Regions from separate parts of the Homo sapiens genome. Here region 1 is linked to region 2. The links come from fine-mapping of genetic effects on gene expression. A gene starts in region 2. The other region holds a variant in brackets. All regions are shown on one strand. Distances are between the middles of the regions.

Region 1 (5,097 bases), 150 kb after region 2:
CAGCCTTCCCTTCATCCCTCTTGGTGCCTGCTCTCCCTGTTCCCTTTCCCTTCCTTTCACCCTTCTGACTTCTCCCCTCCCATGCCCTCTTGCAATCAGGTCTCCCAAAGCACCCCTGCCCTTCAAAAAAGAGCTTCATGGCAGATGGTTCACAGTAAGGATGGTAAGGCCCTTCTAGCCTATGGCAAAGGGCAATCTTTCCAGAGTTCAGTCAGTTCTCAGATACCTTGCTCCGGAGCAGAGGGGCTCCTGGAAGGGCAGGAGCAGGAAACTGACAGGAATCAAATCCTCTTATTATGTGCCAGGCAGTATGCTGGGCGCTACACATACTTGATCTCTCTCAGTCCTCACAACAGTTCTGAGGTCAGTATTAGCATCCACATTGTGCAGAGGAAGAAACTGAGTATCCGAGAAGTCTTAGAGCTTGCCCAGGGTCATACAGCTGGAAATGGCAGAGCCGACATTCTGGAAGCAGGTCTGCCTGATTCCAGAGCTTGGGTGCTTCCGGCCTCCTACAGCCCCACCTCCCCACGGAGCTCATAGAAACACGTGTCTACTGGCCTCCCCTCGTCTTGGGCTACTAATCCCTCTCTCAGGATTTCCCCAGGGTCTCAAAGGATCTGGTGAACTGAAATTTCTATCCCTGCCTCGCTGAGAAGTAGAGTGGCCCTGGAGCTGTGAAGGCCTCACCAAGGAGCTGTCCGCCGCCTCGTCTCTGTCTGCCTGCCTCTTTCTCCTTAACACCATGTTACTTAACTGTGACTGCTTAGCCTGGAGAAGAGAAAACTTGGAGGGCATCGGGAGGAATGAGATGTAATCACTATTTTCCATTATATATATATGATCAAAATGACTTGGTGTGGCCCCTGGGGGCTGAGAGGATAGCCCACTGGGATTCAGCTCAGGAATTGATATGTGGGCAGAGGAGGAGAGAGGGTGGGACAGGAAATACGGATTTTTTGAATGCCTAAGATGTGTTGGGACATTTCGGCTACCTTGTCTCATTTCATCTCCATGACTCTGTGAAGGAGACTTCATTACCCCAATTTCGTATAGGAAGAAACTGGGGCTTGGCAGGTTAGGCAATTTGCTGCAGTTCACCCAGATAATGAGTAGTATACCTGGGATCTAAAACTATAGTCCTACCTCCAATACTCTGATTCTTCTCCCTGATACCTTTCACTAGAAGGAATAGTTGGCTCATAATTAGAGTTCAGGATAATAATGGGGTTGGGAGGTAATGAGCCCCTTGTCACTGAAGGTATTCAAGCAGAGGCTGAAGAATTCTTGAAATGAGGATGGGAAGGTTGGACAAGCTAACCCTCAACTCTGAGATTCTCTGAGGATAGGATTCTTGGTTTCTGCAGGGTACTGTTTCAGGAGAGCAGGGAGGAGACATGGCTGGGCTACTCACACTCCACACGGTATTTCTCCATCTCCTGCACCTCCGCAATGGACTCGCGCAGGTCGGATGTAAAGCGCAGCCGGTCCTGGAGGCTGGGGGCATTGAAGATGATGAGGACTTTTCGCTCCCCACCAGGTACTGCAGACAGCAACTTGATCCCAAACTGGTAATCTGTGGAGAAAGGGGAGACTGGGCACCTCTGTTGGGACTGGTGCAAGGTGGCTCATACATAAAATAATTTTTCTTTTCTGCTCTTTTTTTTCTGAGACAACATCTCTCTGTCACCCAGGCTGGAGTGCAGTGGTGCCATCATGGCTCACTGCAGCCTTGAACTCCTGGGCTCAAGTGATCCTTCTGCCTCAGCCTCCTGGGTAGCTGGGACCATGGGCACGCACCACATGCGCAGATTTTTTTTTATTTTCAGTAGAGATGGGGTCTCACTATGTTGCCCAGGCTGGTTTCGAATTCCTGGGCTCAAGCGATCCTCTTGCCTTGGCCTCCCAAAGTGCTGGGATTACAGGTGTGAGCCACCATGCCTAGCCCATGAAATAATTTTTCTACTGTCTAACTCTGATCATGCC[T/C]CTTCTCTGCTTGAGCATGTTTAGCAGCTCCCCTTTGCCCCAAAGCCCTCAAACTCCTGGTAGCTGTGGCCCTCTTACTCCCTGTACTGCAGGATGTAAAGGCACACAACTATGCACTGCTCTCTCGAAACCCTTTCCTTCTCACCTCTGCCTCAACTCACATTGCTTCTGCTGCCAGGAATACCACGCAACAAAGCTCCTCCTGGTTCATCCTTCAGAGCACAGCATGATCACCGTCTCTTTGGCCCACCAGAGAACACATGCACTGTGGTTCTCTGCAAGACCATGAGCTAACCAGGGGCTAGACCCAAGTCATACTCCACCCTGGCCTGCCCCTCATCCTGGGACCAAGTAGGTGCTTTGGAGACCCTTAGTCCGGTTGTAAGGGACTCCGAAAACTGGAGCTGGTATAGATGACGGGTGAGCATGGGGGCCATGACATAGACTCTCAGGAGCTGGGATCCAAGAAGGGACTCACATGAATTCTGGAAGAGCTGCATGTGCATTTCCACGAGGGGGAAAGACTGACGGAAACTGTACGTCACCAAGATCTTCTTCTTCTGGAAAATTTTGGTGACCTTTGGCAGGGGTGGGAAAAAGACAAGAGGCAGCGCTTTGGGTGGGGGATTTCCACGTGGCACCTATTTCTGGTAACCACCCTCCCCTCCCACCCCATTAACAGACACACACACACAAACACACATGCCCACAAGCTGGGGAGAATGGAAGCTTGAGGGACAGAATGGGAGACATGGAAGAAAACGCAAGTTCCTGATGTAATGACCACGCACCACAGACATTTACCACATTTCCAGAAACTAACTGAATCCTGCTTCCTCCAGGAAGCCTGCTCCAACATCCCACAGAGATTTGTAAACCCCTTTTCTGAGCTCCAGAATGGTGATTCAGTGCCTTTCCCTTGTCAGGCACTATGCTAGTCCTCTGAGTGTGTGATCGCCCCCTGCTGGACTGGAGGGCAGGAGTCTGGTTGTCGGGTTCTGTCACCAGGCCTTACCAGAGCCTGCACTTAATGGCAATCTCTGCTGAACCCATGTAGAGAGTTAATAAGTCTTCCTCTCAACAACCCAATATCTTTGTCGAGTACTTGGGCACTCTGGACTCAACTAACACAGGCTGCAAACACCTCAGGCGGTCTGCAAGTGGCTCGTAAAAGGAAATGTTTTGATTTCAGGATGGCACAATGACGCAAAGCACTTTTTTAGGTCCTTTGGGCTGTGAGCTCCCTGAGAACAGGGACTAAGTCTGATTCATCCTGGCATACCCAGTGCCTAGCATAGAGCTGGACATACACCAGTTTCAGTACCTGAGGGATGTCTACACATTGACTGTGTGGGCCAGGTACTCCCTGGGGTAGGGCAGATTCCACATATAACCTCTTATTTCATTTCATCCTCATGACAATCCTGTGAAGTAGGGGTTAGTTCCATTTCACAGAGGAGGAAACTAAGGCTCAGAGGGAGCATGGAAATACTTCGGCTAAAGCAGCAATGCTCAACTGGGGGTGATATTGCCCCCAGAGGACACGGAGCAACATCTGGAGACATTTTTGGTTGAAGGGTTGCTACTAGCACCTAGTAGGTAGAGACCAGGGTGCTGCTAAACATCCTACAGTGCACAGGACAGTCCCCGCAAAGAATTATCCAGCCCCAAATGTCAACAGTGATGAGACTGAGAAACCCTGCTCTAAAGGAGAGAAGACCACAGGGAGAACAGGATCAAGAGAGTCCTCAAATCCCTGGAGAGCTGTCTTGGAGCAGAGGTACAACACTTGTTCTTTGTGATGCCAAGGGTTGAGTGCAGATGGCTGGAAGAAACCCACAGGGAGACAAATTCTAGCAGTCAGAGCTGCCTAACAAGGCAACTGGCTGCCTTAGAGGAAGGCGGCTTTCTGTCCCTGCAGTCATACATCCAGTGGGCCATCTAGGAAGCTGGACCCTGAAAGTCCCTTCCAACCTGCAAAGTCCTAAGAGTCCCATCCCTAAAAGACAAACATCTCTACTTGTAATGAGCTCAGTTTGAAGAATCACTTCAAGCATCTTTTTTTTTTTTTTTTTTTGAGACAGAGTTTCACTTGTCGCCCAGGCTGGAGTGCAATGGAGCGATCTCAGCTCACTGCAACCTCCGCCTCCTGGGTTCAAGCGATTCTCCTGCCTTGGCCTCCCCAGTAGCTGGGACTACAGGCATGCGCCACTGCGCCCAGCTAATTTCTTATATTTTTAGTAGAGACGAGGTTTCTCCATGTTGGCCAGGCTGGTCTTGAACTCCTGACCTCAGGTGATCCACCCACCTCGGCCTCCCAAAGTGCTGGGATTACAGGCATGAGCCACCGTGCCTGGCCCAAGCATCTTTTTTAAATTTTGTTTTTATTATTTATTTATTTATTTTTGAGGCAGGGTCTGGCTCTGTTGCCCAGGTTGGAATGCAGTGGTGCGATCACAGCACACTGCAACCTCTGCCTCCTGGGCTCAAGTGATCCTCCCGACTCAGCCTCCCAAGTAGCTGGGACTACAGGTGCACACCACCATGCCCGGCTAATTTTTGTATTTTTTGTGGAGACAGGGTTTCGACATGTTGCCCAAGCTGGTCTCAAAACTCCTGGGCTCAAGTGATTCAAACTGCCCTGGCCTCCCAAAGTTCTGGGACTATAGGTGTGAGCCACAGTGCCGAGCCCACTTCAAGCATCTTGATTACTGAAGATTTCCAGACTGACCTGGGGGGTCGCAGGTTCACCCCTCTTCACACAACCCTATGGGCTATTGAGGTGGACAGGGATATTTCCTACCACTTCCCAGGTTGTAAGTCTGTCATCTCCTTTGGTCCTCATATTTTCTGTCCCTGTGTGTCTGTTACTACCTCCAAATGCATCTGTGAGGAAAAGGAGGGGCAGAGAAGGCCTGGGCCTTGCCTGAGACCATGCAGATGGCATGGCAGAACACCTCGCCCGCCACACTCCACACACCACACACCTACATCAATATGGTTCACACCAGACTTAGGTGTCAAGCTCACTCTCTCCCTCCCATCTCCTCCCCCACAGTGCTCATACCACAAGGAGATCATTGAAGAGGAAGACCTCCCGCTGATGCAACC
Region 2 (5,522 bases):
CGAAAGAGAGGGCTGTTCTAGGTCTTTAAGGTCACATCTAGCTCCAAGATACTGTCTTCGCTGAAGGCCAGAGAAGACAGGCCCCATTGGCTGAGACCTTAAACAGAAACCAGGAGGATGAAGAGTCATGGGCCCAATGTGCCCTAGGGCCTGTTCCCATGTTGAAACTACTTGTCTTCATATGCTTCCTAGCTTGCCCTCGCTCCTTTGCAGCAGAGGGCCCTGCTCCTGGGTGGGAGGTTCCTGGGATTTCCTGGGACCAGACCTTTAAAGTGCCACCTACTTCTGTGAGTAGAATCGGATTGGCAGGGACAAAACTAGATTCAAGAATGTCCCTCCTTAGGTGACCCAAAGGGCTGGCACTGGCTCCCCCAGTTGGGGGTGTGCAGGATGGTTGGGAAGGAATCCTATTATTCATTCAGTAAACACTTATGAGTACTTACTGTGTGCCTGAAGTACTGAACTGGGTGATAGGGATACAGCAGGGAAACAAGATAGAGCAAGTCTTTTTTTTTTTTTCTTTGTTGCCCAGCCTGGAGTGCAGTGGCACAATCTCCGCTCACTGCAAGCTCCGCCTGCCGGGTTCACGCCATTCTCCTGCCTCAGCCTCCCGAGTAGCTGGGACTACAGGCGCCTGCCACCACGCCCGGCTAATTTTTTGTATTTTTAATAGAGACGGGGTTTCACCATGTTAGCCAGGATGGTCTCGATCTCCTGACCTCATGATCAGCCCGCCTCGGCCTCCCAAAGTCCTGGGATTACAGGCGTGAGCCACCGCACCCAGCCAATAGAGCAAGTCTTTTTCCTCCTGGAGCCTAGAGTTCAAGACAAATATTCTTAATATTTTTTGTGCCATGGACCCCTTTGGTGATCTAGTGAAGCCTAATGGGACCTTTCTTTTTCTTTTCTTTTCTTTTTTTTTTTTTTTTTTAGATGGAGTCTCACTCTTGTTGCTCAGGCTGGAGTGCAATGGTGCGATCTCGGCTCACTGCAACCTCCACCTCCTGGGTTCAAGCAATTCTCCTGCCTCAGCCTCCCGAGTAGCTGGGATTACAGGCGCCCGCCACCACGCCCGGCTAATTTTTGTATTTTTAGTAGAGACAGGGTTTCACCATGTTGGCCAGGCTGGTCGGGAACTCCTGACCTCAGGTGATTCACCCGCCTCCGACCTCCCAAAGTTCTGGGATTACAGGCATGAGCCACCATGCCCCACCAGACCTTTTCTCAGAAAAAAAAAATTGTTTAAATTCATAAAATAAAATATCTAGAATTACAAAAGAAATTGATTACATTGAAATATAGTTATTAAAATATGGAAAAAGCAAATATGTGCTATAGTATAATCGTATATGTACTCCCCATTAATCCATTAAATCATAAGATTTAATGGAGGGTCTAATGACTATCATGATTTTAAAATAATGATTGAAATTATATGATTTTCAAGAGATCTGCAACATCTATAATGTGATATGAAAATCTCTGATTTCTATTAGTGACAATCAGTACTGCTACTACTGCTGCTACTATGCCTAGTTACATTCTTTATTGAAAAATGCTAAATTTCAGTTAGAGGAGAGGGAAAATAAAGATGTAATTTTGTTTTATTTTTTTGAGACGGAGTTTCAATCTTGTTGCCCAGGCTGGAGTGCAATGGTACGATCTCAGCTCACGGCAACCTTCGCCTCCCAGGTTCAAGCGATTCTCCTGCCTCAGCCTCCCTAGTAGCTGGGATTACAGGCATGTGCCACCACGCCCGGCTAATTTTGTATTTTTAGTAGAGATGGGGTTTCTCCATGTTGGTCAGGCTGGTCTCGAACTCCGACCTCAGGTGATCCGCCCGCCTCGGCCTCCCAAAGTGCTGGGATTACAGGCATGAGTCACTGCGCCCGGCCATAAAGGTGTAAATTTGTTCCCATCCAAATTCATGGACCTCTCCAAACCCTGTCCCCAGCCTCGATTAGAGGTCTGCAGAATACAAATTAAGAACCCTTGCAAATAGGAGGGTCCTTCCCATCTCTCCTTCCTTCTTAAACAGTTTTCCTTTGGAAGCCTGGGTTTTATTCTGGGTCTTACTGCGCCGACTGCCGGCGGTGTACGGTAAGAAGACGCAAAGACGGGGCGGTGGTGGGGAGTGGTAGCGGGAAGAGGCAGGGCCGGAGCGCGCGAGGGGTGGGGCCTGGCTGTGTGACTTCAAGCCAGTCAGTTTGCCTCTCTGGGCCATAAGTTCTGTCCGCCTGAATACTGGGAAAGAATTGGGAGGAGAGAACTTAATTATTTATGCCCCAGGCAACTGATCTATATTTGCCCTCTCATTTAATCCTCACACATTGTGAGGAAAATTTTAAAACATCTTTCCATTTCCAGATGGTTAAACTGAGGCTCCTAGCGAGGTTGTCACTTGACCAATGTCTCAGCAGGTATCAGGGACTGGTAGGTGACACGCCACATCCCCATAGCCACCTCATCCTCCATGCATGGAATAAGGAACTCTGCTCACTTTGAGCGAGAGAAACCTGGCTTAGGAATCTCTGCAGGTGGGTGTGGAACTGTGAGAAACTAGGGGCAGAATCGCGTCTCTTAGCAGAGCGGTGGCAGTGCAAGGTGGCTTATGGAGAGTAAAACGTCAAAGAAGCCAGGCATCTCGATTGTGCAGTGACTCGGCGCCTGGCGTGGCTTCCGGCTTCCCGCCTGCGTATTCCCAAGTAGCCGCCTGAAGACCTGTCGAATAGACAGGCAAAGGGCCATGACAAGCACTCCTTTCCTGGCCAATCCTATTAAAGGGTGGGCTTGGCTCTTTAACCAATCAAAGTCCCCCGAAGGGGCGGAGTTTTCCTCGGTTTGGCTCTAAGCCTCGGGGGTAAAAATAAAATGTTTCCATCCCCAGCCAATCCCTGGAAAGGCAGAAGGGCACTCCTCCAATGGGAGCCGGGGAGCCGTCGGTAGCGGCGTAGGCCCGTGCCCCTGCTCGCGCTGCAGCCCGTGGAAGGGTTCCGTCCAGCGTATCCTTCAGATCTTGCTGTAGGCCTCTGGTGTCTGTGCGCGCGCGGCAGGGGCGGCGGCGGCGACGGCCGGAGGTGTACGGTGAGAAGCCATAAAGACGGGGCGGTGGGGGGAGTGGCAGCGGGAAGAGGCCGGCCGAAGCGCGCGAGGGGTGGGGCCTGCGCGAGCTTTTACTGGGGCGGCCTCTCAACCCTAGGTCAGCGGGTTGCGGAGGATCGTGCGGGTCGCAAAGGGAAGCCGAGTGCTCCTGCGGCTCCCAGACTGCAACCAGGTGAGTACCCTGCGGAGCGGTCGGTGCCCGTTGCTGCCCTCCCGCGGCCCCACCTCCCACCCTCAGTGTCTTTCGAAACGGTTCCATGCAGGTCTGCCGCTCACGTGATCGTCTGCGTGCGTGTCTGTCTTTGCATCCCCTCTCCCATCTCTGTCTCTGTCCCACTTTTTGAGACGTAGTAGATATAAGATGCTGAATCCTGACCAGTTTAAACTAGCTATGAAACCTTGAGCTATCTCCTTCACCAGCCTGGGCCTCAGTTTCCTCATCTGCCAAATGGGGGTCTGATAATGTGTACCTGAGACAATGCATGTGCATTACTTTGCCCTGCACCCGGTCCTTAGAAAATTTTCAATAAATAATGACTATCTTGACTGAAAAGAATATTGTCTCTCTTGGTTTCTGTCTTTTCTCTGTCTCTGACCCTTCCTCCATTGGATCTTTCTGAATGCTTCTGTCTTTCTCTGTTACTGTTTTTCCTCTTTTTACCCGTCTCTTTCTCAACCCTAAAGAGGTTAGAGGTGCATAGTTTATAGCAATAAGTTTTACCCCCGAGGACATGAGCTTAGCCTGGGGCTCCGACCTGTTCTGTGGGTAAAAAATGGAGCCTGGCTTTGGGTTGCTTCTGGTGTCATTGAAGAGAGAACTCTCTTTGCTCCCCAGCCTACTCTGTTAAACAGGTAGAGACACCCAAAGTTGGGAGCAACTTAGATTAAAAACCACTTTTTAATAGCCCCTTATCCTATATAATGTTAGTCACCACAGGAAGCCCACAGATCTCCTGGTTATGTCTCCATACAGCCCTGGACATCCTATTTTCTATTTCCATCCTGAAATCCTTTGACCAGGCCTTAAGGAACTCACCTTCAGTTATCAGCAAAATTCCCTCCATTCTCATCCTGGCTTCTGAATACTCCCTTTATTTTCTTGCTATGCTTTGGTCGTTCTCATACCTGTTGGACCCAACATTGCTTTTTTTTTTTAATAAGGTGTATTTTGAAATGCTTCACTATTCTAAAATGAAATGGATAGAAAATAGAATCTGTCTACACCCATAATTCCCTGAAAACCAATATAATGCCCTAATTGTAATATAGAGAGTAGTAAAGGAAGAGTAATATATAATATTATATTATACATATATCGCACATATATATGCAAAGACTGGGATATGACTCCATTAGAAGACATGATGAAATGGTCTTACACTTAATGATAGTGACAGCTACATGTGTGTTGATTGGTGATTCAGAAGCCACAGGTAGAGTGACACAGTTTTCCTAAATAATGAACAATTCTTCACAAAGTTCTAAACAAAACAATGTGGAAGAGTTTCTCAGTTTATATGGTCGTTAAATTTCTGGAAAAATCAGTATATATTAATATCCATGATGAGACCCTCTTAATCTCCCTGACCTTATCTCCCACCACTCTCCCCCCTTGCTCACTCTATCTACCCATGCTGGCCACCTTACTATTACTTGAACACCTTAGGCACACTTCCGCCTCAGGGGTTTTGCATTCCGTGTATCTGGAATGCTCTTTCCTCAAATACCCACAAGGCTCAGGCCCTTGCTTCCTTCAGGCCTCTACTCAGCTGTCACTTTCTCAGAGGGCCCCCCAACCATCCTGTTTAAAATTGCAGCTCTCCCCTAATATGCCCCTGCTCTGTCTGTTCCATGGTATTCTACACCTTTTTCACAGTGTAGCATTAACTGCTTAGTATGTTTGCTGTTTATTGTCTGACTCTCCCACTCAATTATAAGCTCCAGAAGGGCAGGGATTTTTGTCTTTTTTGTTCTATGATACATTCCTATTACCTAAAATAGTGCTTGACACCTAGTAGACTTTCTCAATGAATGTTTGTTGAATGAATAAAAGAACAAATGAACAGGTTTTTCACCTACATTACTGGTGAGATATTCTAAAGTTGTATGGAATGTGGTATGATTCTTTGTGGTGTGGAGCTGTCCTGTACACTGCAGAGGGCTGAGCATCCCTGGTCCATAGCTAGGGTTGTCACTGATGATCTCCAATTATTGTCACAGTCAAAAATGCCCCCCAAACAGGGCCGGGTGTGATGGCTCACGCCTGTAATCCCAGCACTTTGGGAGGCCAAGGTGGGCAGATCGCTTGAGTCCAGGAGTTCGAGACCAGCCTGGCCAACATGATGAAACCCCGTCTCTACAAAAAATACAAAAATTAGCCGGGTGTTGTGGTGCACGCCTGTGGTCCCAGCTACTTAGGA

Direction of the effects. Alleles are on the strand shown, and positions count from the first base shown. SD is a standard deviation of normalised expression in the study named.
As copies of T replace C in region 1, the expression in prefrontal cortex of the gene that starts at base 2,942 in region 2 goes up (moderate effect, 0.71 SD a copy in GTEx).

What was found.
Region 1: its variant is fine-mapped to the expression of KANTR in prefrontal cortex (GTEx, PIP 0.93).

Annotation. Positions count from the first base shown.
Region 1 is chrX:53,236,731-53,241,827 of GRCh38, forward strand. It overlaps IQSEC2 (IQ motif and Sec7 domain ArfGEF 2), which reads right to left. Exons shown (of 15, transcript NM_001111125.3): 10 at 5,054-5,097; 11 at 2,465-2,564; 12 at 1,415-1,576. Among named protein-coding and RNA genes, the nearest start is that of KDM5C, 14 kb to the left of the region's middle. The variant T/C (reference allele first, on the strand shown) is at 1,987.
Region 2 is chrX:53,091,201-53,096,722 of GRCh38, forward strand. KANTR (KANTR integral membrane protein) reads left to right here and starts at 2,942. Exons shown (of 3, transcript NM_001397448.1): 1 at 2,942-3,084. RefSeq lists enhancers at 2,034-2,858, 2,571-2,630, 2,941-3,060 and a silencer at 3,121-3,270.